7 linked regions of the Homo sapiens genome follow. The protein of the gene in region 7 purifies or fractionates together with the protein of the main gene of each other region. This does not show direct contact. Each region holds a gene or a part of one and is shown on either strand. Other genes may lie near its edges.

The links.
Region 1: the proteins of MCCC2 (region 7) and PPP2R2B purify together in Homo sapiens (co-immunoprecipitation; one large-scale study listed by IntAct). This does not show direct contact.
Region 2: the proteins of MCCC2 (region 7) and DHRS4 purify together in Homo sapiens (co-immunoprecipitation; one large-scale study listed by IntAct). This does not show direct contact.
Region 3: the proteins of MCCC2 (region 7) and FGL1 purify together in Homo sapiens (co-immunoprecipitation; one large-scale study listed by IntAct). This does not show direct contact.
Region 4: the proteins of MCCC2 (region 7) and KATNIP purify together in Homo sapiens (tandem affinity purification; one large-scale study listed by IntAct). This does not show direct contact.
Region 5: the proteins of MCCC2 (region 7) and CMBL purify together in Homo sapiens (tandem affinity purification; one large-scale study listed by IntAct). This does not show direct contact.
Region 6: the proteins of MCCC2 (region 7) and MRPL13 purify together in Homo sapiens (co-immunoprecipitation; one large-scale study listed by IntAct). This does not show direct contact.

The regions. Positions count from the first base shown.
Region 1 is NC_000005.10:146,872,258-146,875,757, reverse strand, and holds part of PPP2R2B (serine/threonine-protein phosphatase 2A 55 kDa regulatory subunit B beta isoform), read left to right. Parts: intron 1-3,500. UniProt on the Homo sapiens protein: The B regulatory subunit might modulate substrate selectivity and catalytic activity, and might also direct the localization of the catalytic enzyme to a particular subcellular compartment.
Region 2 is NC_000014.9:23,963,770-23,966,774, reverse strand, and holds part of DHRS4 (dehydrogenase/reductase SDR family member 4), read right to left. Parts: intron 2,198-3,005; coding exon of another isoform or gene 2,177-2,197; exon of another isoform or gene 1,014-2,176; coding exon 943-1,013; exon of another isoform or gene 844-942; coding exon 792-843; exon of another isoform or gene 493-791; coding exon 358-492; exon of another isoform or gene 70-357; intron 1-69. UniProt on the Homo sapiens protein: NADPH-dependent oxidoreductase which catalyzes the reduction of a variety of compounds bearing carbonyl groups including ketosteroids, alpha-dicarbonyl compounds, aldehydes, aromatic ketones and quinones.
Region 3 is NC_000008.11:17,868,025-17,871,524, reverse strand, and holds part of FGL1 (fibrinogen-like protein 1 precursor), read left to right. Parts: intron 1-2,520; coding exon 2,521-2,609; intron 2,610-2,789; coding exon 2,790-2,977; intron 2,978-3,500. UniProt on the Homo sapiens protein: Immune suppressive molecule that inhibits antigen-specific T-cell activation by acting as a major ligand of LAG3. Responsible for LAG3 T-cell inhibitory function. Binds LAG3 independently from MHC class II (MHC-II).
Region 4 is NC_000016.10:27,556,644-27,560,143, forward strand, and holds part of KATNIP (katanin-interacting protein), read left to right. Parts: intron 1-3,500. UniProt on the Homo sapiens protein: May influence the stability of microtubules (MT), possibly through interaction with the MT-severing katanin complex.
Region 5 is NC_000005.10:10,287,403-10,290,902, reverse strand, and holds part of CMBL (carboxymethylenebutenolidase homolog), read left to right. Parts: intron 1-121; 5' UTR 122-140; coding exon 141-355; intron 356-2,373; coding exon 2,374-2,481; intron 2,482-3,500. UniProt on the Homo sapiens protein: Cysteine hydrolase. Can convert the prodrug olmesartan medoxomil into its pharmacologically active metabolite olmerstatan, an angiotensin receptor blocker, in liver and intestine. May also activate beta-lactam antibiotics faropenem medoxomil and lenampicillin.
Region 6 is NC_000008.11:120,394,937-120,397,543, reverse strand, and holds the end of MRPL13 (large ribosomal subunit protein uL13m), read left to right. Parts: intron 1-1,418; coding exon 1,419-1,440; 3' UTR 1,441-2,107; downstream 2,108-2,607.
Region 7 is NC_000005.10:71,653,340-71,656,272, forward strand, and holds part of MCCC2 (methylcrotonoyl-CoA carboxylase beta chain, mitochondrial isoform 1 precursor), read left to right. Parts: intron 1-2,933. UniProt on the Homo sapiens protein: Carboxyltransferase subunit of the 3-methylcrotonyl-CoA carboxylase, an enzyme that catalyzes the conversion of 3-methylcrotonyl-CoA to 3-methylglutaconyl-CoA, a critical step for leucine and isovaleric acid catabolism.

The sequences.
Region 1 (3,500 bases), about 75 Mb from region 7:
TATACCCTCTTACTGGGTGGGGAATTAGCTTCTAGTCCTTCCATAGATCTTGCTTTTCTGTTTCCTTTACTATTTCTACATTTTCCTCCTACCTGCTCAGTTATGTCAGATTGTTCTTTTTTTTCCTCCAAAATATCTCCTTCACATGTATTTCTGAATTTTTCTTCTGTTTGCTCAGATCATTCCACATTGCAGTGTTCTATTTAAAGCTGAAAGGTTTTTGCTGTGTAGTTAGTGTGAAGGACTCTAAACTCAATTTGCATTGTAAGTGGTGACTGCAGGCAAGTTCATCCAGCTAAGAGCAATGCAAATGCTAAAGGACACTTTCACCCAAGCTCCCCTCTCTCAGTCTCTTTCTCTCTCTCTGTCTTTCTCAAAAGAATGCATGGTGTGCATTTAATAAATAAATTTCCTAGGACTTTTTTTTAATTCTGAGCATGAAAATTACCACCCTCCCCTACCTTTCCTCCTCTTTTAAAGTTAACATCTTTGAGCATCTTCTATGTTCCAAGCACTGTGCTGAGCTCTTTATGTATAGCATTTCAATATATCTAAACCCTGTTAAATGGATGTTGTCATTTCCATTTTCAAAGAAGGAAACTGATGCAACTGAGGTCTGAAGATGTTACTAATTTGCCAAAAGTCACACATTCAATGGAAAACCTTGTCTTCAAACTCAAGCCAGTGTCTGAAGGCCAGGTTCTCCCACTAGGAAATTCTGCACTACTTCATTTTCCTTTAACCATCAGCTCTTATTCTGGGAAAGATTGCAATGGTTTTATCTCAGTGTATAAGCTATATTTCCATCAGGCATAAAATCCTTTGCAGGGAAAATTTGAAGTGTGTGTATGGGGTTATATAGAGGAAGGGCCTTGGGTAGGGTTGAAATTTCCCACAAAAATAAAGTCAACACAATGGTTTGATTTTTTTTTTCAGATATGGAACCCCAGGTTTCCTAACCAGGGATTCATCTCTCAAATCTCTCTATATGTGGGTTTCCTGCTATATTTTTAGGCTTCTGTTACAGCCAAGTAAAACCCTATCTCCATTATAGCAGTCTGTGAGTTTTCTAGATTAATCTTCCTACTTTCAAATGGGGCCACAGATAGACCAAATATTCTACATAGATGGGGTGTTTTAAAATAACTGCTCTGTTCTCAGTTTCCTTAGCTGGAAAGTGGGAATAACAATAGAACCTATGCCAAAGAAAAATTATTTGATGCAGAGAAAGCACTCAAGCACTCGGGATATGCCTAATACAAAGCCCACCCTTAATTCATTATAGCTGTTATTGTTACTTAATGTACTTCCTGGTTATATTCTGGCAACAAGTGGGTTCCACCTTCCCTCAGAAGCCTTTTTAAAAAACTGTCTTGTTTATACATATTAAAGGAAGAACAAGTTTACTATTCCAAGTAGCTCCTTTCAATTATTGATTCATTCTGCCTTTAATTCCTTCAACAAATACTGACGTTTTGCAGAGGTGATACGGGATGTTCCAATACAGACGTGGTCTCTGTCCTCAGGGATCTTTCAATCTAGCAAAGGAGATAGTATGAGACAAATAATTTTGCAAATAAATATATAGTTACCAATTGTGATAAGTGATATTTAGGAAAGGCACAAGATGCCTTGGGGTCATAAGGTGGAAAGGTGGATCTAATTTAGATCGGGAGTTCAAGGACAGCCTCTCAGACAGCTGAAACTGAGAACTAAAGGATGAATTTGCAATTAACAAGACCTGAAAGCATTTTAGGTAGAAGGGACAATAGGTACAAAAGCCCAGAGAGATAAAATAGCCTAACTGATTCAAGGAATGGAAAGATGACTATGGCTAGGAACAGGGAGAAGAGTGATAAAAATGAGAATGGAGTCTGCAGTTCATTTTGAAATGTACCAGAAGCAAGAAAGATTAATGCTAAGAGAGAGGGATGGGTAAATGGATAGACATATGATAAAGCAAGTATAAAATGTTAGTCACTGGCCAGCCATGGTGGTGTATGCCTGTAATCCCAGCTACTCAGGAGGCTGAGGCAGGAAATCGCATGAACCCAGGAGGCAGAGGTTGCAGTGAGCCGAGGTCGCGACACCGCACTCCAGTCTGGTGACAGAGCGAGACTCCATCTCAAAAAAAAAGTTAATAACTAAATTGAGGTGGTGGGTCTATGGATAATCACTGTAATTTTTTTTCCACTTTGCAGTCTGTTTGAATTTTCATAATAAAATGTTGGGGGAAAAAAAGACTGGAGAAGTATTCAGGGACCAGATCATATCAAGCCTTGTTGACCACAAGGAGTTTGGACTCTATCCAAAGATGAATGGAAAGCCATTAAGGAAAAGGGAAACATGATCAGATTTGTTTTTCTAGAAGTTTAATCTGGCTGCTGTGTAGGATGGGGTTAGAGAGCCAGGCATGTAATGAAAAAGAATGAAAGTTGGGAGATAATTAGGAGGTCATGGTGTGCTCCAGGATGGTGGCATCAGTAGAGATGGAGAGAATTAGATGGATTTAAGATACGTAATAGAGAAAGATTGCATTGCACTTACTTACTATGATTGGGTGCAGATGGAGAAGGTGATGTCAAGGACAACTCCCAGAATTTTGCCATGAAAATGGATGCATAATGGGGCGCATCACTAAAAGCGGAAACAGACTGAAAACTGATTAGTTTGAGAAGACAGTGAGACATCTAGTTTCACAGTGAGACTTGCAAGTAGACAATTGGATTTCTGGGTCTGAAGCTCAAGAGAAAGACCTGGACTAGATAATAAATTTGAGATTAAACATCACCAGCATATTAAAGGTACTTAAAACTGTATGAATAGATGAGATGCCTCAGATAAGAACATTTCAGGGCAAAATTTGAACCAATGAGTGAGAAAGTACAAGGAAGTGGATCTTGGCTTGGTATGAAGAAATTGTAGCAAAAAAGTACCTCACAATAGAATAGGGCCTTGGTAAGCATAAATAACCACACACTGATATTATTCAAGTAATACTATAATATATGGCCATTTCTCAGCAATGTGGTAGGATAAGAAGAGTCCAGTCTTGGATGAGTTGAGTTTAGAACGTCTCCAGGTTTGAGATCTGAGTGATTTGTGAAATACATTAGCTTTTTAGGGCCACAGAGAGTAAAAGTGAGGAAGTAAAGATTCCTCCTCCATCCCCCATTCCAAATAAGCTCAAGAAAGGGGAAACTTATAATGAATAAAGCTGGGAAGGTACATGAAAATGGCTTTTGATATGAAGATGCTGGGAAGGCATTGAAAAAATAAAAGGGGGTAGTGTCATATGATGGAGAGCTGCCTCATAGTTCCTTAAGTTGCTTTGGTATTTGTATGCAAATGCCAGATCAGAATGCTGTTTCCAATGCATATGGATGAATGTTTGAGCTCTCTGCTGTTCTCAGAGAAACCTGAAATGCGAGGTGAGAAGTAGCTGCCTTACACTATTGTAAATGACCTTTCTGGGGATGGGAAATGTTCTGCTACTAAAC
Region 2 (3,005 bases), on a different chromosome or scaffold from region 7:
TCTTTCACTTCCTATTTTTTTCTAGCTCCCAGCTCTCCCCACTGCCCTCATCTGTTTCATTTGTTTCAGGTTCTAGTGATGCATTTTGCTGCGTCTCTCCAATTCTCATCCATGTAAGGAGGGAGGAAACAGTGTGAGTACAGTCTGAATACCTCAGTCTCCAGCCTATACCTCAGAAAAGGTGTGATAAGAGTGTGGCTTGTATAGGGCAGGTGGTACAGAGAGGGAATATGGGAAAGTCCAGGGAAGGAGAATGGAGTGGCTGAGAGCTCAGGACTCAGGTAGTGGGCTTCCCTGTCCAAGAAGATGGATGCCTTTCAAGGGGTCCCAGTCAAATGCAAAGCTCCCCTTCCTCACCATCCTGCTGAAGCTAGTCTTGATAAGTCCAGGTGCTAGGCAGTTCACCCTAATGTTCCTTGGGGCCAGCTCTATGGCCAGGGTCTTGGTCAGGCCCAGCAAGGCTGTTTTACTGACATTGTAAGGACTGAAGCCCTGGAGAAAGAAGAGAATGTGTTAGACTCATAGTTTCCAGGTCATTCTTGGTTCTAATAACTAGACATAGAGGGCAGTGCTCAATAGGGATCTCCTGTAAGGGAGGGGCAGAGTTAGGGAACTGTCTTGTGGCTAAACCTCCCCTAGGTTGTGGTTTGTGGAGGCAAGGCATCTATTTTGTGGGCAGGGACTTGGTGGTGTGATTCTACAAGGGGACACAAACTTCCTTGGGTAATAGGAGGGGTGGAAAGATGTGGAGTGGAGGGTGGGATGGAAGAGGTAGACAAAAGGGTTCTTACAGGAGATGGACTGAAGGCTGCTATGGAAGACACGATCACCACTGAGCCGCCTCTGGAAAAAGAAGAGAGCTGACCATCTTCCCATTGTGGACCAGTGCCCTCAGCCCGTGTGGTGTCCCCTCTCACCCAGGCTCTCTCTCACTCTCTGTACCCTCGTTTCTCCATTTCTGGCACCACTGCCTTTGTCATCAGGGCTGGGGCCTTCACATTAATGTCCAGAGTCTGAAGCCAAGAGAAGAAGGGGAAACAGCATGAGTGAAGAGCACTGGAGGAGGCATGAAAAAATGAGGAGTTAGAGTGGGTTCCTAGGATGTTTGTCAGAGCTGACGAAGATCTTAGGATGATATACCTGCATCTTACACATGAAGGAACTGAGGTTCAGGGAGAAGTAGCTCTCACCAGCTGCTCAGCTAGATATTGATACATTAGGTTCAGGTGAGCAAAAATGGAGCCTGGTTCATCTTGTTTCATAATCAGCCAAGTATGATTTGGGCCAGAAGGGGCCTTTGGATTTGAGCTGTGTTTTCTCTGTTTCTTCCAAGTAGGTAGAGCCTGGAATTGTCAGCCTCCTGGACCTGCCCTAGACTACCTGCCCTAGAGTAGGCCATGCTTCTCAGGGAAAATGTGGCCTGACCTTGGATATGTGGGGTTGTTCTAGCACTTCTCTGGCTTCTGGGCTTAGGGAGTGAGATGTTCTTGGCCCTCTAGGAAGGACTGTCTGGCTAGGCATGGTTAGAAAGTGGGATCATGAGGAGTCACCTTCTGGGGAAGCTGGGGGACAGGCTACAATCAGAATCCCCACATCCATAATCTAAAACAAATGTATGACCCTGTTTACACTGTTCTAGACAACTGCTTATATTAAAATATTTCAATCTTACAGAAAAATTGGAGATAGAAGTACAATGAATGTCTAGATATCCTTCACTTAGATTCACCAATTGTTCACATTTTGTCCTATTTGTCCTCTCTGTAGATCTGTACAGTTTTTTAAATGAACCATTGAAACTCAGTTGCAAGTTTTCTGAAAGATTTTATATAATAAAATCAAAAATTACAAAGAACAAAAATAAAAAAATGTAAATTAAAAAAAAAAAACAAACTCAGGGCTGGGCATGGTGGCTCATGCCTGCAATCCCTGCACTTCGGGAGGCCAAGATGGGTGGATCACTTTTAGGTCAGGAGTTCGAGAACAGCCTGGGCAACATGGCAAACCTCGTCTGTACTAAAAATACAAAAATTAGCCAGACGTGGTGGCATGTGTTTGTAATCCAAGCTACTCAGGAGGATGAGACAGCAGAATAGCTTGAACCCGGGAGGTGGAGGTTGCAGTGAGCTGAGATAGCACCACTGCACTCCAGCCTGGGTAACAGAGTGAGGCTCCATCACAAAAATAAATAAATAACCTAAAATAAAATAAGTAAACTCAGTTGCAGATAGTACAATGTTCTATCCCCAAATACTTAGCATACATTTCCAAAGAGTAAGGATTTTCTTTTACACAACCATAATCTGTTATCACAACCAAGAGTTTGACAATGATGATAATTTTATCTAACATATTGGCCTCAATTATCCCCCAAATGTGTGTGTGTGTTTTTTAAAGTCCAGAGTTCAATCAAGGATCAGCCATTATGTTTGGATTTGTCATACTGTGATAGTTTAAAAAATATACAAATTAAAAGAAAAGTTATAGACACATATTTTCTTATGCTTTGCAGATATTGTGTTTTTTTTTTTTTTTTTTTTTTTTTTTTTTTTTTACAAATTGCAGTTTCGTGGCAACCCTGCATTAATTCGAGCCATTTTTCCAATTGCATGTGCTCACTTTGTCTCTGGGTCACATTTTGGTAATTCTTGGAATATTTCAGACCTTTCCATTATTATTGTATCTGTTACGGTGATCTGTGATGAGTGATCTTTCATGGTTTTATTATAATTGTTTTGGGGTACCACAAACCACACCCAGAAAAGAAGGTCAACTTAATCGAAAAATGTTGTGTGTTCTGACTGCTCTGCCCTTCTCTCATCTCTCTCCCTCTCTGTGGGCCTCCATATTCCCTGAGACACATTTACATTGAAATTAGGCCAACTATTAACCCTACAATGGCTTGTAAGTGTTTAAGCAAAAGGAAGAGTCACACATCTTTCACTTTAAATCAAAAGCTAGAAACAATTAAGCTTAGTGAGGAAGGCATGTTGAAAGCTGAGGCA
Region 3 (3,500 bases), on a different chromosome or scaffold from region 7:
TAATAGAAGTTTTTTTTTTTTGTTTTTTTTTTTGAGACAGATTTTTGCCTGTTGCCCAAGCTGGAGTGCAGTGGCACAGCCTTGGCTCACTAAAACCGCTGACTCTTGGCTCAAGCAATTCTCATGCCTCAGCCTCCTGAGTAGCTGGGATTATAGGCGCACACCACCACACCCAGCTAATTTTTGTATTTTTAGTAGAGACGGTGGTCTCACCATGCTGACCAGGATGGTCTCAAACTCCTGGCTTCAAGTCATCTGCGTGCCTTAGCCTCCCAAAGTGCTTGAATTACAGGTATGAACCACCGCATCTCGTCTGTAATAGAATATTTTTAAAGACAGTTGACTTAGCCTGCCTTGCTGCTCTTATACACTCTACAGTCTTTTCTCCTGTGACCTTTACTACCTTGAGAGAGCTCCCTGGGGCAAGGAAATTGTGGTGCTAAATCAACAAGCCCAAGAGAGGCCCGCATCACCTCTTAAAGGGACTCCAGTCTTGAGGAATCCAGCATTCCCTGCCCCAACAGCCTTGAGTTTGTTTATAGGACTCCTTCAGGATGTTCTCGTCCTGGTGTGTGCACCCTTAAGCTTGAGGGGAGGCTAAAAAATGGCTTTTTTTTTTTGAGACAGAGTCTCACTCTGTAGCCAGGCTGGAGTGCAGTGGCGCGATCTCGGCTCACTGCAACCTCTGCCTCCCGGATTCAAGCAATTCTCCTGCCTCAGCCTCCTGAGTAGCTGGGATTACAGGCACGTGCCACCATGCCCAGCTAATTTTTGTATTTTTAATAGAGACAGGGTTTCACCATGTTGGCCAGGATGGTCTCGATCTCCTGACCTTGTAATCCACCCAACTTGGGTGTGAATAGAACTTGGATATGCAGCCTGGGATGTCCACAAGTGGATCCAAAGCCCCTTGCTATAAGTGATGGAGATGGGGATGGAAAGAGAGAAGAGGCCAACCAGAGATGGGGCCTAGGTGATAGGACTATTCAGGGACTCTCTTTCCCAGTGCCTCCATGGTCTGGCTTGAAACTCCAAGGAAAGTGAGGCTCTAAATTCTAACCCGACCTTACAGGTCATTGTTATATCTTATTTATCAAAGTAGGAGGATAGAACACATGTGATCTAATAATTTGATTTATAACATTTGGTGCCCCTGACAAGAGTTCTGTTTCTGAAAAAGGAATAGTCTTTGTTATTTCCAAACAATGGGAAAAAAAAGATTACTTGAAGGTAGCAATTATTTTAATCATTTTAAAAACATAATGCTCTTATATCGCCTAGAATTTTTACAGTCATTAAAGTATATCTTTAATGTTTAGAGATTTTTTGTCATCATATATCATTCTTTAGCATATATAAAAGATAATATGTACCCAATACATTGTATTCTTTTTTTTGTTTTTTTGTTGTTTTTTGCGACGGAGTCTCGCTCTGTCGCCCAGGCTGGAGTGCAGTGGAGCAATCTCGGCTCACTGCAAGCTCTGCCTTCTGGGTTCACGCCATTCTCCTGCCTCAGCCTCCCAAGTAGCTGGGACTACAGGTGCCCGCCACCATGCCCGGCTAATTTTTTGTATTTTTTAGTAGAGACGGGGTTTCACAGTGTTAGCCAGGATGGTCTCTATCTCCTGACCTCGTGATCCGCCCGCCTCGGCCTCCCAAAGTGCTGGGATTACAGGCGTGAGCCACCGCCCCGGCCCCATTGCATTCTTAAAATGCTTTCACATGTAGATATCAGTTCTTCAGAAATACCTTTTTACTCAGAGTCATTGATGTTAGTATATTTTCCAGTAATTATCATCATCTCTGCCATTGAGAATGTTGGTGGTACAGCATTTCTCCAGAATGTTTCCTTATTGCCTCTGAAATTCTCTTCCAATGACATCCACTCTACATACTTTGATGCTAAGAGTCTCTTGATCTTATGAGCCAGTATCAAACGAAGGTTTTCGGATAACAATTAGGATTCATATTTCTTCCTCAAATTATTCTTAAAGGGTTTCCTGGCTGATCTTTTATGCTATCAGGAAAATAACCAAGTTCAGGCATATGCAGGCAATGGCAACTACATTTTACAAACCTAGTGGCTCAGCTACTAGAGATTACACAATGTCATTAATAGCCACCATTTATATTCAAGATCAACATTCTTACTGAAATCAAGAAAAAGAGGTCAAACTATTAAAGGTAAAACGTCGACCCTTTCATTGTTAGATTGCTTTAAGTAATCACTTATTTTTTCTGTTGTTCATTATTCAGTGAATTGCACTAGGTTTTACCTCTAAGAGATCTAGTAGACATTTTTTAAATTTAATATTGTATCCATCATTTTTTTTCAAATAAATTACACGATAAAATGTTCATGTTATATATACAAAGGAGTCACTGTTTAATCTTTGAAAACTGATTCTTGGCCAAGGGAAATGGTAAAATTAAAATAGAGCTGTGAATTATTTTTAAACCGCAGTAGTCCGTGTCATGTCACACATTTTTAAAAATTATAATTGCTTGTTTCTTTTTTAGAAGACTACACTTTAAAAATCGACCTTGCAGATTTTGAAAAAAATAGCCGTTATGCACAATATAAGAATTTCAAAGTTGGAGATGAAAAGGTACTACAATTTTCTAAGAAGTAAAACCGTGAATAAATGCTTAAAATGTGCAATATAACCCTGGAGTCAGTGGAAATAAAAATATACAATAGAACCTGTTCTTTTGTTTATGAAATAAACTTAATTTTAAAATGGTCATAGAGGAACTCCACTGACAGCAGAAATGCCCTTTTTCTTTAGAATTTCTACGAGTTGAATATTGGGGAATATTCTGGAACAGCTGGAGATTCCCTTGCGGGGAATTTTCATCCTGAGGTGCAGTGGTGGGCTAGTCACCAAAGAATGAAATTCAGCACGTGGGACAGAGATCATGACAACTATGAAGGGAACTGCGCAGAAGAAGATCAGTCTGGCTGGTGGTTTAACAGGTTTGATGTCTTATGAGCATAGTTGTAATGGAGTTGATGATATCTCACTGATAGACATTAATTATCAATATAATATGTATGGTAATGTTAGTCTTTATTTATAATATTAGTATTATTAAGTAATCATTCTCATTAGAATTCTTCAGCAATGAAGTCGTTTTGAGGATTTGTTCATTGTGTACATTAGTAAAGTGTAAATGTCATAGAAATAAATTATTACTTTTACAAAGATCATTTGCAAACTGAATTATGGATGAGTTATAAATAGAAGGCCACAAATTCACACAAAGAAAGAGAGAGCATGTATATATATGGAGACTATTTGGCATCCTAATAACCAACTAGTTCTTCACCTGACCATATCACACAAAAGAGCCACCGTTATTGCTGTAATGCTTCTGTATAGTACTACTTTTCAATCACTATGGCTTTCATTAATTCATTGAGTCTAAGCCTCTCCCAATACAGAAATTTCCTTTACAATAATCCAGAAACCTAATTCTACCCTCTGACTGAATACATT
Region 4 (3,500 bases), on a different chromosome or scaffold from region 7:
CAAACAGGTGATGGTTGAATTAGGAAGGTTTTGCTGAGAGTACACCATCGGTTTAGCTGGTCTCTCCTGTCCTTGTGTGGTATTTACCTGGCTTCTTGGTGATTTGTCTGTTTCTCTTACTACTTAAACCCAGCAAAAAAAATAATAAAATAACAATCAAATGCAATAAAACAAAGCAAGCATTCAGCAGGTGAAATAAACATACATCCCATAGACTCTTTGTGTCTGTTCTGTTTTCTTCTTGTTCCAATCCTTCTATCTGATTAGTTTCTTTTCTCTCAGATTTTTTCAGAGTTCGTTCCTCCTGTCACTTTAACTTATAGGAAGTCGGCCCATAATGTTTTGCTTATTTTTCCTTATGAGATTCATTCCATGATTCAACATTTCAGTGCCTTCCGTGCATTGGAATTCAGAGATGCCAAAATGAGTAAGATTGAATCCAGGTGAAGGCGATATGGGAATTCATTGTACTATTCTTGACATTTTTCTGTGAAGTTGATTTTTTTTTTTTTTTTTGAGGTGGAGTCTCACTTTGTAGCCCAGGCTGGAGTACAGTGGCGCGATCTTGGCTTACTGCATCCTCCGCCTCCCGAGTTCCAGTGATTCTGCTGCCTCAGCCTCCTGGGTAGCTGGGATTACAGGCACATGCCACCACGCCCAACTAATTTTTGCATTTTTAGTACAGACGGGGTTTCACCATGTTGCCCAGGCTGGTCTCGAACTCCTGACCTTAGGTGATCCAACCCTACCCCTTGGCCTCCTAAAGTGCTACGGTTACAGGTGTGGATTTTTTTTTTTTTTTTTTTGAGACAGAGTCTTGCTCTGTTGCCCAGGCTGGAGTGCAATGGTGAGATAACTCACTGGTGCGTCCATCTCCTGGCTCAAGCGATCGTCCCATGTCAGCTGTCCAAGTAGCTGGGACTACAGGTGTGTGCCACCATGCCCAGCTAATTTTTTATTTTTTGTGGAGATGGGGGTCTTGCTATGTTGTCCAGGCTGGTCTCCATCTCCTGAGCTCAAGTGATCCTCCCACCTTGGCCTCCCAAGTTGCTAAGATTACAGGCATGAGCCACTATGCCTGGCTGGAAATGAATTCTTTATATCAGAGCTTGCACAAGTGGGCTGAAACAGCCCACATGCATGTTTATTTGGCTCATAATGTTTTGTTTTTTAAATTTTTGAATTAGTTGTCAACATTGAAAAATGAGCAGATTTCTTATAAATACCTGATTGTGGTATTTTCTTGAAAATATCAATAAAGTCTGTTAACACCAAATCAGAATTCTGCATGGCAACAATTGTCCCACCACCCGAGTTAAGTGGAGACTTTGCCCTTTAAGAGGGAGGTGGGCCTGTCTAATGACTGGCTTCTCTCATTGTGTCTGTCACTCCTAGGCCTGTCAGCATTTGTACTTAGAATTCTACTTTAGTATTAACTTGTACAGTTGTGAAAACTCCTGTGGACTTCCTTGTATGCCATACTGGACTATACTTATTCTTTTTGTTTGTTTTTTTGTTTTTAGATAGAGTCTTGTTCTCTCACCCAGGCTGGAGTGCAGTGGTGCGATCTCAGCTCACTACAGCCTCTGCCTCCTGGGTTCCAGTGATTCTCCTGCCTCAGCCTCCTAAGTAGCTGGGATTACAGGTGTGTGCCACCACACCTGGCTAATTTTTGTATTTTTAGTAGGGATGGGGTTTCATATGTTGGCCAGGCTGGTTTCGAACTCCTGACCTCAAGTGATCTGCCTGCCTTGGCCTCCCAAAATGCTGGGATTACAGGCATGAGTCACCATGCCCAGTTTCTTTTTGTTTTAATCTGAAAAAAAGGGAATATATTATCTGCCTTTAGAAACTTCATAGTATGGTGAGAAAGCAGACATAAACAGATGACTACATTTCAACATGGGAGTCCTTAGAAGATAATATTTGTAGAGGTCTTCCCCTTTCCCAAAGCAGTGTGGCCCACTGCCTGCTATTGTAAATAAAGTTTTATTGGAATGCAGCAGCACCCTTTCACATACATATAGTCCATGGCTGTTTTCTTGCAGAGTTGAGTAGTTGTAAAAGAGACTTATGTGGCCCACGGGCCAAAAATATTTACTATCTGGGCCTGTACAGGAAACGTTTGCTGACTGTTGCCGTGGCAGATCTGATTTGATTCCTGAGACAGCTCAATGGGATACTGTGATTGTGTCTGTTTTATACCACACACCTAGTAGGTAGCAGAGCCAGGACTCAGTCGAATAAGGTCTACACTTGGTAGTATGTTATGGAAGGCCCATTTCAGCCTTGTTACTGCCAGTGTGTGGCCAGGTTCTCACACCTGGAGAGTGAGTCTGTGGGGAAGAACTGGCCACTGGGCTGATGGAATAATATACATTTTGAAAGGTACCCGTTTTGACTACATTCCCAGCTCCCTCAGCATCTGGTCCCATGACTGCTTCTCTCTTTCCAAATGGGAGTAGGCTAATGCAGAGCAATGTGGTTGGTTGCAAGGAAGAACTTGAAACTGTTTGCAGAGCACTTTATGTAAAAGTAAGAAAGTGTGACTACTGATGTCCCATGGGGCTTTGCAGCTTTAACAATTGCCCTATGGATCATATCACCTTGAAGTATAGAATTTCTCTGGGGAATTAGCTCCCCTCCAGTCTCATCTTTTTAGACACTTGCCTACCTGCTCTCACACCCAGAGGTTTTACACTGCGCTGTACAGTGTCTATCAATATGTTTTTCCATATTCAAAAATAGTGATTTCAGGCCAGGCATGGTGGCTCATGCCTGTAGTCCTAGCACTTTGGGAGGCTGAGGCAGGAGGATCAGTTGAGCCCAGGAGTTTGAGATCAGCCTGGGCAACACGGTGAGACCCCACCTCTACAAAAAATTGTTAAAAATTATTTGGGCATGTTGACACATGCCTGTGGTTTCAGCTACTCGGGAGGCTGAGGTGGGATCACCTTAGCCCAGGAGGTTGAGACTACAGTGAGCTGTGATCATGCCACTGCACTCTAGCCTGGGCAACAGAGCAAGACCCTGTCTCAAAAAAAAAAAAAAAATAGTAAGGTCATGGTGGCTCATACCTATAATCTCAGCACTTTGGGAGGCCGAGGCAGGCGGATCACTTGAGGTCAGAAGTTTGAGAACAGCCTGGCCAACATGGTGAAACCCCGTCTCTAGTAAAAATACAGAAATTAGCCAGGCATGGTGGCACCTGCCTATAATCCCAGCTTCCTGGGAGACTGAGGTGGGAGAATCATTTGAATCCAGGAGGCAAAGGTTGCAGTGAGCCTAGATCGCGCCACTGCACACCAGCCTGGGCGACAGAGCGAGACTCTGTATAAAAAAAATAAATAAATAAAAAATCCAGGTGTGGTGGCTCACGCCTGCAATCCCAACACTTTGGGAGACTGAGGCGGGCAGATCACGAGGTCAGGAGTTCAAGACTAGCCTGGCCAACATGGTGAAACCCCGTCTCCACTAAAAATACAAAAATTAGCCGGGCG
Region 5 (3,500 bases), about 61 Mb from region 7:
TAATACCATAGATGTAGCTAAAATGAATTTTTTTCTATAATCTTGATTTGAGGTTTACTTACCATTTATAGCCTTTAGATTTGCAGCATTCAGAATATAACGCATGTTTCTCTCTCCATAGCCCGACTTAAATCTCTGCAATGGCTAACGAAGCTTATCCTTGTCCGTGTGACATTGGCCACAGACTTGAGTATGGAGGGCTAGGCCGTGAAGTTCAAGTCGAGCACATCAAGGCTTATGTCACCAAATCCCCCGTTGATGCAGGCAAAGCTGTGATTGTCATTCAAGATATATTTGGCTGGCAGTTGCCCAATACCAGATATATAGCTGACATGATCTCAGGAAATGGATACACGTATGTATAAAGTTGTGTTTCTTTGTTTAAATTCATACAAATTTCAGTGGTTTATTTTGTTCCCTTTAAAAAATAAAACCACAGCGGTCTGACTATACAGTATCTACTGTACATTAGAAACTTCCCTATCTCACTGCCGTGAAGATAGATGGGAAATGTCTTGGGAAATTAAACACCCACCTGGTGCTCCTAACCCCATTCCTGGGTTTCCTGTCCTCCTGGGAGTACCTGGCCTTTAGACTTGCTGGACATTGAGAATTCTTTTCCCGTGTGGGGCCTCAGCCAGACGCAGGCACTGGACATCTGAGGCCAGCCTCACCTGCTGTCAAATGGACCCGTGACTCGGTCCTTCAACAGCTCAGCCTCGTGTCAGATTTCACGGCCCATTTGGACGGCAGGGTGTCCAAGGCTCCTCCTGGTCCATACACGTACGGTCGTGGCCCCCTCTGAATTAGACTGGGGTTCAGAAGTGGCACAGTGAGACCTTGCTCCCCTCCCCAAGTTTACCTCTTTGTCTGGCCAAGTGGCCATGGCCACCTTTGGCCAAGGCTGATACCCGATTGCTTCTTATTTGCCCCGGTGTAAAGCGCAGAGGAGGGCCAGAACCTTCCTTCCTCTCCAGCGTCGGAAAGCATCAACCCAGTGAGCCCTGAGGATGGTGCACGGCTGGATTTCCTTTGTTTTCACAGAAGGAGAAGCTGGAAACCCGAGGATGAGCCTACCTTGTTTTTCTAGGAAGAGAAACTGGCTTAAAGGAATCATGCCCACCCTGGTGGGATGCAGAGTCGGTGCTGAATGAAAAGACCTTCCTTGAAGTTTTCCTTTTTCACGTCCCCATGTGAGGGGACTTAACTTTCTAGGGGCAAGCCCAGTAAAAATAAATAAGTAAATAAATAGCTAGTTTCAGTTGCTCAGCCAGACGCAGTGCTGAGGGCATGACTGGGCTCATTGCCCTTAGTCCTCCTGGCAGCCCCTTGAGGGAGGAGCTGTTATTGCTCTCATTTTGCAGATTAGGAAACCAGGCCATAAAGAGAGCGCTTTGCGGCTGCCCCAGATCACTGGCCCAAGCAGCCGATCAAATGGCATTGCTGTTTCTGTTGTTTCACGGAGGGTCCTTTAGCAGGGGTCAGGACATAAAAGATAAGGAAAGACCCCTGTTTTACAAAGCCCTTTCACAGGTATACAACTTTTTTTGCCCTCGAGAGGATCCTCTGGGGTTAGGCAGTGCAAGTTTGTCAGATGAGAAAATGAGGCTAGAAGCGGTGACATGACTTGTGAAGGCCAAGGCCACACAGCAGCATGGGGTGTACCGAGCCTCGAACTTGGATTTTCTCACTCCAGTTTCAGTGTTCTTCTACCCCTATAGGAGGAGCCCTGTTCCTCCAACCAGGTGGCAATTCTATTTTGGGAAACAGGACTCAACCCCAGCGGCTGGCTCTATCCCTCTGGGTTGACTTGCATGGAAGAGCGACCTGGACTGGGGCCAGGCTTGTTTGTGCTCTGCTGCCCGTCTTAGAACATACCCTCTGGATAGGAAACTGTGCTTCGTCGCCGTCTTGGTGGAGGCTGGGAACATTGCCTGGTCATAGTGACTGGACAAGTTAGCCAGGTGTGCCCTCTGGCCTGAGGCTCATGTGAAAGGCCAGGAGTCTCCCCAGGCTGGCTGAGAGGGGCAGGAGGGGCCCTCAAAGCCACCCACGTCAGGCCCACTCCCCCAGGTGCCTCCACATCCCATGCCAGCCTATCCCATGGGAGTGTGCCCTGTGGATAGCCTCATTGCCAGGGCTGGGTTACCAGCAGGCTGCCAGACGCTGTGCACCTGCGGTTGTGAAACCTAAGAGGGCTTGGCCCGGTGCCAGGTGGCTGCTTTGCTGCGATCAAAATTGGCCTTCACACCCACTACTTTTCCTTTTCTCTGAGCCAGAATCGCCAACGTAGCAAGTTTTTAAATAAATGCAAGCAAAATACTGAGTCAAGCAACTCTGAAACTAAGATCAATTCATGTCCATATTTTGCAGAACCATTGTTCCAGACTTCTTTGTAGGGCAAGAGCCTTGGGACCCCTCTGGCGACTGGTCTATCTTCCCTGAGTGGCTGAAAACAAGAAATGCCCAGAAGATCGATAGGTGAGTTATCCGCAGACGTGGCCATGTGCACGTTGTGGCCCAGGGAGGTGAGAGCTGGGTGGGCTTCACCTTTCAGACACTACTCCTTACCTTGGGGTAGGACTTCTCCATGGCCAATGGAATCCTTCCCCTGGCACAAAGGAGAAAAAATTTTTTTTTGTTTTTGCTCTGTTGGAGCCCAGGCTGGAGAGCAGTGGCATGATCTCGGCTCACTGCAACCTGTGCTTCCCAGGTTCAAGCAATTCTCCTGCCTCAGCCTCCCGAGTAGCTGGGATTACAGGCGCCTGCCACCAGCCCGGCTAATTTTTGTATTTTTAGTAGAGACGGGGTTTCACCATGTTGGCCAGGCTGGTCTCAAGTGCTGGGATTTTTTTTGTAATTAAAATTTTTAGGCCGGGCATGGTGGCTCACACCCGTAATCCCAGCACTTTGGCAGGCTGAGGCTGGCTGATCACTTGAGATCAGGAGTTTGAGACCAGCCTGGCCAACATGGTGAAACCTGCCTCTACTAAAAATACAAAAAACAAACAAACAAACCAAAAACTTAGCTGGGTGTCATGACGCACGCCTGTAGTCCCAGCTACTTGGGAGGCTGAGGCATGAGAATTGCTTGAACCTGGGAGACGGAGATTGCAGTGAGCCAAGATGGCACCACTGCACTCCAGCCTGGGGGACAGAGCGAGACTCCATCTCAAAAAAAAAAGAAATTAATTAATTAAAAATTTTAAAATAAAATAGAGATGGGGTCTCACTATAGGCGTGAGCCACTGCACCCAGCGGGGATAGCATTCTTTATGTGATGATGATCAATATCAAACAATATTTTTATGAGCACCATCTATGAAAATAGAGATTTTAGTGCATCTGTCACCGAGTAGTGTACAGTTTACCTAATATATAGTTTTTTGGCCCTCACACCCTCCCACCCTCCCCCTTCTGAGTCTCCATAGTCCATTATATCACTCTATGTGCCTCTGTGAATCTACTCATAGCTTAGCTTCCACTTATAAGTGAGAACA
Region 6 (2,607 bases), on a different chromosome or scaffold from region 7:
TTGGAGCTGGCAGACTAGAATGGCTGAGTCGACCTAACCACAGAAATGGCAGCTGCCCCTCCCCCCAGGAACTTGTCCATCTCAGGCAGTCTCCAGCCTGTTGCACTGGTTGGCTGGATTTCCAATCCAGTGAGGCTTAACTTGTGAGATGCCATGGAAGTGGGGCCCGCAGAACAACACCGCTTGGCTCCCTGGATTCAGCTCCCTTCCTTGGAGAATTTATGGATGGATCTCCTGCCTTACCGGGATTCCTGGGGCTAGAGTCTATTAAACTCCTGGGTCTCTGTGTGAGCCTGAGCAACTGCTCTGCCAAGACTCTGCACAGCTCTGTGTATTGGACCCAAGGCCCTGGTGGTGTGGGCTCACGAGGGTATCTCCTGATCCACAGGCTGCAAAGATCCGTGAGAGAAACGTGGTTTCCCAGGTGGGGGTCACACAATCACTCACTGCTTCCCGTGGCTGGGAGTGGGGGTTTCTTTGGCTCCATGCCACTCCCAGGTGGGCAGTCACTCCATCCTGATTTCCTTAGTTCTTTCTCCATGGGTCGAGTTGTCCGCCTAGTCAGTCCCAATGTGAAAACCTGGATATTTCAGTTGAAGGTGCTGAATTCACTTGCCATTTTCATTCCTCTGGGAGAACTGCAGACCACAGCTGCTTCTAATCAGTCATCTTTGCCAAAATATCTGTTTAGTTTGTTACCAACTTCCTTCAGAAAATTCCATATGGAAACCCAACACCTACAAATACACTTTTGAAAAGATAACAGGACAAATTGTTTGCATTTTATAATTTCCTATGTTTAATTTTGTCTATTGTTATAATTTAATACTTCTGAAAAATTTTTTTAATTGACTAATGAAAGCAGCTCTCAGGTGTGGTTAATCTTATAATTGCATAAATAAGGAAAACCAGTTATGTTTGTAAATAAATATTAAAGGACTGATGTTTATACACTTATTTTGTATATGGATCATAATGAAAATTAAATTTAGCATATGATAATATAAATAGGAAAAATCACTTACTCAAAATTTGCATTTGTACTATAAATCCATGTCTTCGTATGATTTTTAAACTCTTAAAGATTATAGTAATCTTTTCAATAAGGACTTTATAAAAGTTTAAAAATGGAACAGAGAAATTGAATTCAAATTATTAAGTTACTAAATACATTCTTATATAGGCACAAGGTGGCTTATATTTATACTTTCAAAAAGACTTTGGAGTTGTCACTTAACTGTTCTACTTTATAAAGATTTGATGTTAATGTTTTTTTTTCACCAAAAATTTAGATATAGTGTTTGTAGCTATTTCTTGGTGAACAGTTATTTTTATTTTAAATTGGAAAAATAATCCTCATCAGTCAGGAGAAAACAAAATAATGATTCATGAAGAAATATGTTGATTTTTTCTTTCAGACCTGAAGATTATCGGCTATAAGAGAATAAGAATTGCAGAAAATAACAGTGAAGTGATTGAAACTTTCTTCTGATGAGTTTCTCTAACCTACAGGATGGAGTAAAACAACTGCTACAGTTCAGCACCTGTTTTATGTGCCGAATCACTGTGGGGAAAGGTCAGGAAGGTATAGTCCTTCAATAGGAAATTGTAATTAAAATATAATTTTATAGAACCATTTTTATGTAATCTGATTTGAATGTTATAGTTGATAATAATAAAATCACTTACTTGGTTGACTATTTAGTGTTGCATTTAATGATAAAAAACAGACCCTGTGTATAGAATTGCAGTTACACATTCCAAAAATGCCTCTCCATGCAGATTTTCTCAAGTTTGCAGGTCACTATTCTTGTCCCTTGTGAACAAGCTCTACCTTCACTTTTCATTTCAGTGGCTTTTTTTATCTAACTTGTCATCCATCTAAATTCATATTTGCAGCTTAGTAGGGTAAAGTTTGCCCTGAAATATTTATAAACTGCTATCTTTTTCTGTGTCCCATATAGCCTCTTGGCCCCACAATGACACCAGAATACATAATGCCTGTCTGCTCGTTAGAAATCCCTCTTCCCTGCCAGTGATTCTGTTTGTAGACTCTCCACACTGTTTTCCCATATCTGTCCTGTTGGCTTCCATTCATCTCTGTACTGGCACTTAGATTGGGGTGCTGGGATGACTATTGCTTGTAAAATATGCTCTCTAGAAATTAAGATACTGAGCCACTGCATTTGAGCATTTTCATGGTGGTATTTTTTCATCTCTTGCCATAGCCAATCAAGGAATGAATTTCAGACCAACTTTCCCATTCATTCAGCAAACATATATTCAGTACTGCTATATACCAGGCACAGTGCTAGGTCCTGGGAAAACAGAAATCATACAAGTTGCCCCCAACACTTCCGTGCCCCATCAAAGAGTCTATTGTAGGATGGGAAGGAAGTATAGATAGATCTGTAAACAAGTAAAACTGGTTGTCAAATGTGCTAATACAACTGTGTGAATTATGATGTAAACATGTTTATTTAATAACTGCATTAAATATGACATAAGCACCTACTATGTGCCAGGCACAACCACTTTATATGAATTATTTAATTAATACATACTGTAATGGAGGTACTGTTATCCTCCCAATTTAAAGGGGACACA
Region 7 (2,933 bases):
CATGCCTGTCCCAGCTGAAGACCTGCTGGTGCCTGCTTTCACATCTTTCTTCAACAACTTTAGTGTTCTGCATTCCGAAGACTAATCTAAGCTTCATGTCTTCCTTTCATCCCTTGGGCAGATGGAAAAAAGAAAGTAACTCTTTCTGCATCTTGTAAAATTAGCTTATGTTGTAATTTATGCTGGCGAAGGCAAACTGGAGAGGAGAGGGGAGAGAAAAGAAAATCAGGCCAGGCACAGTGGCTCACACTTATAATCCCAGCATTTTGAGAGGCCAGGGCGGGCAGATTGCTTGAGCCCAGGAGTTCGAAACTAGCGGGGCAACATGGTGAGACCCAGTCTCTACAAAAAATATACAAAAATTAGCCAGGCGTGATGGTGTGCACCTGTAGTCCCAGCTACTCAGAAGGCTGAGGCAAGCAGATCAGTTGAACCTGGGAGGTCAAGGCTGCAGTGAGCCGAGATCATGCCACTGTGCTCCAACCTGGGTGACAGAACAAGGCCCTATCTCAAAAAAAAAAAAAAAAAGCAAAAGTTAGAGTCCATTACAATCATTTGAATGGTTCCTTGGTGGATACAAAGACAAAACATACTGATTTTCAAGAACATAATTAGTTTGAGGAGATAAATAATACCATTTGGGTGTGTGTATGTGTTTTTGTTTTTGTTTTCTTTAAAGACAGAGTCTCACTCTGTTGCCCAGTTTGGAGTGCAGTGACGTGATCTCAGCTCACTGCAATCTCTGCCTCCCGGACTCAAGCAATCCTCTTGCGTCGGCCTCCAAAGCTGGGACTACAGACATGTGCCACCACACCTGGCTAATTTTTTTGTATTTTTTGTAGAGATGGGGTTTCACCATGTTGGCCAGGCTGGTCTTGAATGCCTGAGCTCAAGTGATCCTGCCTCGGCCTCCCAAAGTGCTTGGATTACAGGCGTGAGCCACCTGTAATCGTGGCTGGCCAATATTTGGGAATTTTTAAAGGTTTTTTGCTGAATATATATTTTTACAAACAAATTTACAGGTATATTTTATTGTGGTGGTTTGATTCATTTAATTAAGAACAAAATATTTTATAGTCTTTGAGAGCTAAACATGTTCCTGATTTTATCATCGTGTAAACAGACATATAGTAGCCAGTAAATGGAAAGAAGCAATAGAAAGCCGTATAAGAGGTTTGAGATGAAATATAAAATATATATTGTTAAGCTTTTCTATAGTTTTTTTTTTCCACATAAGATTTTGACTGAAATACACAGGGACAGCTGAAATATTAAAGTTTGAAAAATTGTGTATTTTGTGTGAGCTGTTAGCTTGTTTTTCAGCCCTGGCTAAGATAAATCATCTCTTGAGAAAGATTGCATCTTTTATTATTTTCATACTAACATTATTATTATTTTTTAATGGATTACATTCAAGGCAGAAGAGTAAATGGCCCAGAGAGACTTATCTTTGGAAATAAATGTTAACAGACAGTAAAGTTTTCTGTGGATCTGTAGATTTTTTTTTTTTTTTTTTGAGACAGAGTTTCTTGTTGCCCAGGCTGGAGTGCAATGGCATGATCTCGGCTCACTGCAACTTCCGCCTCCTGGGTTCAAGGGATTCTCCTGCCTCAGCCTCCCGAGTAGCTGGGATTACAGGCGTGTGCCACCACGCCTGGCTAATTTTGTATTTTTAATAGAGATGGGGTTTCTCCATGTTGGTCAGGCTTGTCTCGAACTCCCAACCTCAGGTGATCCACCCGCCTCGGCTTCCCAAAGTACTGGGATTACAGGCATGAGCCACTGCACCTGGCCAGATCTGTAGATGTTTAACCCTTCTGTTGAAACAGCTGGTGGCATGGAGACAGCAGCTTTCTTTCAAAGCTGAAAGGATTTCCAAGCCAGTTTATGGTACCTTCCTTGGGTTTAGTAAATCTCAGCTTCACAGTAAAATTCCCTGGCCTGCTTAGGTTTGAACATGGCTAGATCTGTCTTTTCAGAGACAGAGCTTGTTATTATCAGTTACTGAAACCTACAATGTTTTCCTTAATCCTAATAGGTTACATATGTAGCGTGCCAATTTGCTTCTGCTCAGTTGTTTTTATAATCAAACTTTTATCCGGCATTTCATTAGTGCCTCTTACCTGGGGCAGTCTTTTTAATGAACATTATTAAGCAGCCCCTTCATCACCATGCTTGCTGTGCTGCAGGCTTCAGAGGGAGTGTAATCAATTCACCTGGTTGCAGATGACAAGAGTGGCTTTCTTTTTATTGGGTGTTGATACTTTAGGGTCCCTATTATGAATGTTTTATGAGCAAAGGTTTGATTCATGTCTGTCAATGTAAGAATGGTTTAATAGTTGATGCCAGGTTCAGATACCGAAGGGAGTTTATATAAAAAAAGCAAACTGCCACCTACTAATAACCTTTAAAAAGTAATATTTCTCAGTCATTTTTCGTTATACATTTGAGGTTGTCAATGAGAAGGAAACTAAAATTTCTACTTAAAAGTTTCTTCTGCAAGCAGTTTAAAGTTATTGTTTTTCCTATTGTAGCAAAAAATAAAGACCTACATTTGAAGGTATCTATTTTATTAATAAAATGTACTGAAGCTGGCCGGGTGTGGTGGCTCACGCCTGTAATCGCAGCACTTTGGGAGGCTGAGGTGGGCGGATCACCTGAGGTCAGGAGTTCAAAACTGGCCTGGCCAACATGGCGAAACCCCGTCTCTTCTACAAATACAAAAATTAGCCAAGTGTGGTAGCGCACTCCTGTAATACCAGCTGCTAGGGAGGCTGAGGCAGGAGAATTGCTTGAACCCAGAGGGCGGAGATTGCAGTGAACTGAGATCGTGCCACTGCACTGCACTCCAGCCTGGGTGACAGAGCGAGACTCCATCTCAAAAATAATAATAATAATAAATAAGATAAAATGTACTGAAGCCTATTCAATAA